Regions from separate parts of the Homo sapiens genome. Here region 1 is linked to region 2. Evidence: fine-mapped expression QTL. A gene starts in region 2. The other region holds a variant in brackets. All regions are shown on one strand. Distances are between the middles of the regions. Region 1 overlaps MAP3K9 (mitogen-activated protein kinase kinase kinase 9). Region 2 holds the start of TTC9 (tetratricopeptide repeat domain 9).

What was found. PIP is the estimated chance that this variant, and not a neighbour inherited with it, causes the effect.
Region 1: its variant is the best candidate, but not a certain one, in a credible set for the expression of TTC9 in whole blood (TOPMed, PIP 0.50).

The regions. Positions count from the first base shown.
Region 1 is chr14:70,780,613-70,783,513 of GRCh38, forward strand. All of the region lies in intron 2 of MAP3K9 (mitogen-activated protein kinase kinase kinase 9), which reads right to left. Among named protein-coding and RNA genes, the nearest start is that of MAP3K9-DT, 27 kb to the right of the region's middle. RefSeq lists an enhancer at 77-166. The variant T/C (reference allele first, on the strand shown) is at 1,765.
Region 2 is chr14:70,640,558-70,643,458 of GRCh38, forward strand. It overlaps TTC9 (tetratricopeptide repeat domain 9), which reads left to right and starts at 1,359. Exons shown (of 3, transcript NM_015351.2): 1 at 1,359-1,978. The coding sequence starts at 1,573. TTC9-DT (TTC9 divergent transcript) reads right to left here and starts at 741. Exons shown (of 3, transcript NR_110071.1): 1 at 451-741. RefSeq lists enhancers at 254-433, 534-793 and silencers at 1,264-1,413, 1,634-1,823, 1,844-1,913.

The sequences.
Region 1 (2,901 bases), 140 kb after region 2:
AGCCCAGAAAACACAGCTGGGACTCCATCCCTCACCTCATCCAGGCGCAGATATCACCAGCAGGAAACAGAAAGCCAGAGGCTTTTGTGCAGCCACTTTCCTTACTAAAGAACATCTCCTTAAACACCTGCCTCCCCTGAATTTTCTCATCGTATCAGCTCAAACTGACTGAGAAGAGCTGCCAGATCTCCGTCATACCTCTGAAGTACCCAGCTACATACCAGATAAAAATAACCAAAAAAGAGGAAGCCTATCAGATGCTCGATGGTTTTGTCAACAGAAAGCAGTTCTTTCTTGGCAGGTGGCCATGGGGTGCAGCCGCCGCACAGGCTCTCCAGGGCCTTGTATCCCCAAGCTCTGCTAGCAGAGTTCCCTTAGCAGGCATGGAAGGTTGCATTTTCAAAGTGGTCCATCATCTCCCATCCTCTGTGCTTTTCCCCAGTGTGATCTTGACACTTTTCCCACTGAGAGGTGGGTCTGTGTCCTCTCCACTTGAAGCTGAGTGGTCTTGAGACTCACTTTAACAGAATGCAGAAGAAATGACAATGCCCGACTTCTAAGCTAGATCAGAAAAGATGCTACAGCTTCCCCATGTTCACTGGAACACTTGGGTCTGCAGCCTTGAGCCACTATGTAAGGCCAAGAGCCCTAAGAGAGCCATGCTCATGGACAGACTGCACATGGGCACTCCCATCAGCAGTCCTGGCCTCCAGCTTCTCCCAGCTCAGGCACTGAGCCATGTGTGTGAACAACCTTCAGATGGTTCCTGCCTCCATCTGCAGCCTCCCCTAGCCTTCAAGTCTTCCCAGGTGAGGCCCCAGACATTGACAAGCCATCCCTAATGAGCTCTTTCCAAATTCCTGACCCAAGTCTCCATGAGCTTAATAAAATGTTCTTGTTTGGGGTCGTTTGTTCTGAAGAAATAGTAATGGAAACAGTAGGTGATACACTGTGAGTCTAGTCTCATATCTGCTGCTGCTCTTGAATTTTTTAAAAAGGAAAAACTACCTTTTACTGAGCATTTACTTTGTGCCAGGCATTATGCTAAGGGTTTACACACATAACTTCATTTAATCCTCATTATAATGCCATGAGTAAATACTAGAATTATCCCCATTTTACAGAGGAGGAAATGGGCTCAGGGTCGAGGACTTTGCCCAAAGCCAGGTCTGCCTGATTCAGAGCCCACAACTGTACCAGCCCACAACTGTACCAGCCCAGGTTCTCTGGCCACTTAGAAAGAGGAGCTGTTTCACATGGAAGACTCAACTTCTTGGGAGCATGGCTTTCCTAGTCAACATTCCAGGTCTGGGAATTGCCTAAAGAACCCAGGTGATGGGACATGGCATCAGTGAACACTTGGCTCTGTCTGAGCTGGGGCAGGCCGCCTTCCCTGGGAGGTCATAGCTATGGCCTACCTGCCCTATTACCAACTCTTGAATCCTACCCCTTCTTTGAGGCCTAATTGTTCCATCAAGGCCTCCCAGGGAATTCTGCCTTCTCCAGACCCCATCTCATGTATCTTGACACGCTGCCCCCTACTACATCACACTGTTCTGGTTGTTTAGGATGTGTTTACATAGCACAACTCCTAAGGATGGAAAGAATGCAGTGGAAGTGACCTCTATGTTATGTATATAATAAATTGACCGTATTTCTTACAGCATGTATGCAATAGCAGGCACGTCAATTTCTTATGAGGACATTTGGGTAATAAAATTACCCACATCGGTTGAGAATCATGATCTATACAAAAAGAAAACA[T/C]TCCAGGCTCTGTGACCTGCACTTCACCCCAGGCATTGCAGAGGAGAAAGGATTTGAGGGCAGAGGAGGAAGCGGTACAAGCCACCACAGATACCACCTTCATCCCATCACCTTGCAGGCAAGGAAGTCCCAACCACAAAGGCTCGAAACACTGGGAGTTGCCATTGTGAACCACAAGTCCTTAATAGCCCTGGAAAGCTATGAAACACCAATTAAAGTTTCCTATGAATCACTTTTCAACCTCTCCATGTAAGAGCAGGGAGGAACCAACCTCAAGTACCTCCTCAGGCCAAGACTAGCTTTGCTCTGACTCACTGTCTTTCAGTCTATGATATGGATGCTTTTCTAATTCCTTCCTCCCACCTCCATGTCCATTGCATGGGGAAGATGAGACTTCCTAGCATCTTCCTAGTCTACCTCTGAATATTACTCTACAAATCCTGTTCCCCATGAGACAGAGTTGAGGATCTCACCATGGTAGGGAAAATTCAAAACTATACAAATTCTCTAGATGTTACACCTCAGTTTCCAGGTGAAAGCCAGTCCTTTCCTTCCTTCCCTGCTACCTGGAAGGTGGGCATAACAGGCATACCCAGAAACTGCTGGGAAAACGCTCAAATGCCGTGTTCTCTGCCTTCAGTGAATGCCCATGTAAGGAAAAGTCTTAGAATATCTTATTTTTCCTCAGTGGGGTCACTTTTACTCTTCCTGGAAGGTCATTATCCCAGTCTCTCCACCAATATACTACACATCAAATCAAGCATCAAAATGCTTGTAAGAAACCTAAAATTGGCCAGATTCATGGTCCATGCAACTAGAGTCAAGCATATAAAGCCACAGACTCACATGTTAGAAGCCCAGGACAGTACTGTGTCCAAACAACGGTAAGGTGGGAAGGAAGACGGCATCCTAAAGTAAATTCAAATTAGTCTGACTCTTATTTTTCTTGAGCATCCAAAGGTTTCATATGATCCACAGCAACGCTTCCTCAAATACCCCTTTTTAATTCCATCCACTGTCCTTATAGAAAGAAGCTCCCTCATTTCCTGCTCAAAATTCCTCCCAAAAGAGCTCCTGAAGGATTCACTCTTTGTCCCCTCCCCTTTCCTCCCATCACAAAGCTCTAAAGTTCCAGGA
Region 2 (2,901 bases):
TGCTGACACTGCAGGTCTGGGGCCAGCACTCTGACAACCGGTGCTCTAGAATCTTTCTTTTTCTTAACATTAAGGAAGGGAGGGCACTAAAAAATATGTCAGGCTTCTCCATTGACTCCAAAATCAAATCCAAACTCTTCATCCAAAAGCCCCCATAATCCAACCCCGTCATTTCCCACTACTTCTCATTAGGCTATAAAATCAAACCACTATGCCCTAAACACACCTGAGATTTCAAACATCAGGACTTCCGCTGGATTTCCTCACTCCGGCTATGCCACTTCCTTCTACTTCTTCATGCCAAATCCTACCCAGCCTTCAAGGTCCTCAAATGCTATTTCCTCCATAAAGCCTCCTGATCTACCACTACTCAAAAAGCTACCTCTCCCTCCCCCCCTCAGGGCTGCACAGCACTTTTCGTTCCTCCCCAATGACAGGCACCATCTGTACCTGGTCCAGCGACTCTACCGGTGGGTGGTGTATCTTCGCCTGTAGACTGGGAGTTTCTTGAGGTCAGGGGAGTGACTTGCCTATCTTTGCCTCTTAGCCTTAGCAGATCCCCAGTAGACAGCTGACACTCAGAACCGACCAAAAGAAGGAAGGAATGGGACCTCCTGAGGAAGGGCACAGAACTGTCCTGTAAATGGAAACTAGACCGGACGCACGCCAAGCCGATGACCCACAGTAACAGGTGTTCTCCATCTCTGATGTCTGTGATTCATCCTGCACAGCTGCGCGCACACAGCACACGCATACACAGGCTCCCAGAATACGGCGCCCCACACGCTGTACCGCCCGTCGCGTTCTGGACGCCCCGGCGACCACACACACCGAGACACACCTCAGCGACAACCTGGATCCACAAAAAGGAGGCCCTGCCCCCTTAAAAAATACTAACACCTTACTGCAAAGAACTAGCAGCTACGGCTTGCGCCTGCGCCCCTTGTTCCCTGCCGCACCTTTTCTTGTAGTTAAGAAATCTATTTCTGCACGCATTTCGTCGCCGCCGCCCCCCATCCCTACACGCACGCACACACACACACACACACGCACACACACACACTCCCCTTCCCCTACACCTACCCCCCTCCCCCCACCTCCTTTCAGACTAGGCGCGCCTCGCAGAGCGGGATTGAATGGGAAAGAGCGGGGCCGTCTTTGTCATTAATCCTCCCCTCCTTCGGGCAAGCCAAGCTTCTTCCGGGTCAGCGACCATCCCCGCCACCCCACTCGGGGCCACGGTCCCCCCGCAGCGCTAGTCCCGGGCCCGCGAGCACCGGCCCCCGCCACCCGCAGGTTGCGGAGGGAGGAGGGCGGGAGCGGGCGGCGCGGAGCCGGGAGGCGGGGGAGGGGCCGGCGTCCGAGGCGGCGGCGGCGGCGGCTGGAGCAGCCTCTGGCAGCAGCGGGGAGAATGGGAGTGCGGGGCGCCAGACCGCCGCGGGGTGTCACGGCCGCCACGAAGCCTGCGAGGCGCGGGGCCGGCGCCCGCGGCTTTTAAACCCGGGAAGGCGCGGCGGCGGCGGCGGCGGCGGGCAGATCGCGGCGCGCACCAGGCGCCGGGGCGGCGGCCGAATGGAGAGAAAGGGCTCGGCGGCCGGGGCCAAGGGGAACCCGAGCCCGCCCGCGGCCGGAGAGGGGCAGCGGCCACCGCCGCCGCTGTGCGTCCCGGGCGGCGGCGGAGGAGCCCCAGCGAGGGGCCAGGTCGGGGCGGCGGCCGAGCCGGCCGAGCTCATCCGACGAGCGCACGAGTTCAAAAGCCAAGGGGCGCAGTGCTACAAGGACAAGAAATTCCGTGAAGCCATAGGCAAATACCACCGGGCGTTGCTGGAGCTGAAGGGGCTGCTGCCGCCCCCCGGGGAACGGGAGCGGGACTCGCGCCCGGCCTCCCCGGCTGGGGCCCTGAAGCCCGGCCGCCTCTCGGAGGAGCAGAGCAAGACGGTGGAAGCCATCGAGATCGACTGTTACAACAGCCTGGCAGGTGAGCCGCGCCGCGCCCCCCGCGCCGCGGTCCCCGTTCTTCGGCCCGGTCCCTCCGCGGACCACTGCGGCGCTCCCGCGGTGCAGATTCTCCTGCTGTGACTGTGTTGCTCTGGGGAGAACCCGGGAGGGAGGCGCTTTGGAAAAAGTGTGACTTTCAGGATTATGCCTTTCAAAGGCCATAATCATCTCTTGTCCCTTCGCTAGCATACATCGTAAATCTCACCTAGAAATGACTGGAAGGGGACCCAGCTGGCCTGGCTATGGCTGCTGCTGCTACTGCTCACCAGTGGACCTGGGTCCAAAATGCGGAAGCAGCGCCCGGGGTGGGCCCCCGCAGCCACCGCTAGCCCAGCTTTTTCCTGCGGGTGGGTCCCAAGGGAGGCCACGCACCTGTCTGCTCTCCTTAGGTAGCATGAGCACCAGGATTGGTCCTCGCCTTTTCCCCAACTAACCGCATCCCTGTAGGTAAGATCTTCCCCAAGTTTTTTGGCCCCAGTAGCAAAGGGGAGTTTGACACCATGCCTTCAGCATCTTGAGCAAAATGGATTCCAGAATGCCACTTTCTTCTCTCTGAGCTCTGCTGGGGCTCCCGGTTGCCAGGTGAAGATCTCTATCTCAAAAGAAGCTTGGTTCATGGTTGGGCTTGAACTATGCTGCATTCTCCCTCTCCTCCCTGCCCGTTTCTCACTATGTGTAGCATCAGTCCTCACGCCAGCTGGCTGCTAGGGGTGAAGGAAAAGGGGGCCCTACTCTTGGGCAAAGAAGGTGTACATTCCAACATTCCCTTTGGGGATAAGAGCCAAAATCAGGGATTTAAAAATTGTTTAATTTAGGCGCAGGAATATTTAAAGTCTCTTAAAAAAAGAAGAGTCTGGCTCTTGCTAGGGCCTTCCTGGGAGAAGGTGGGAGAGGTTGGCAAAG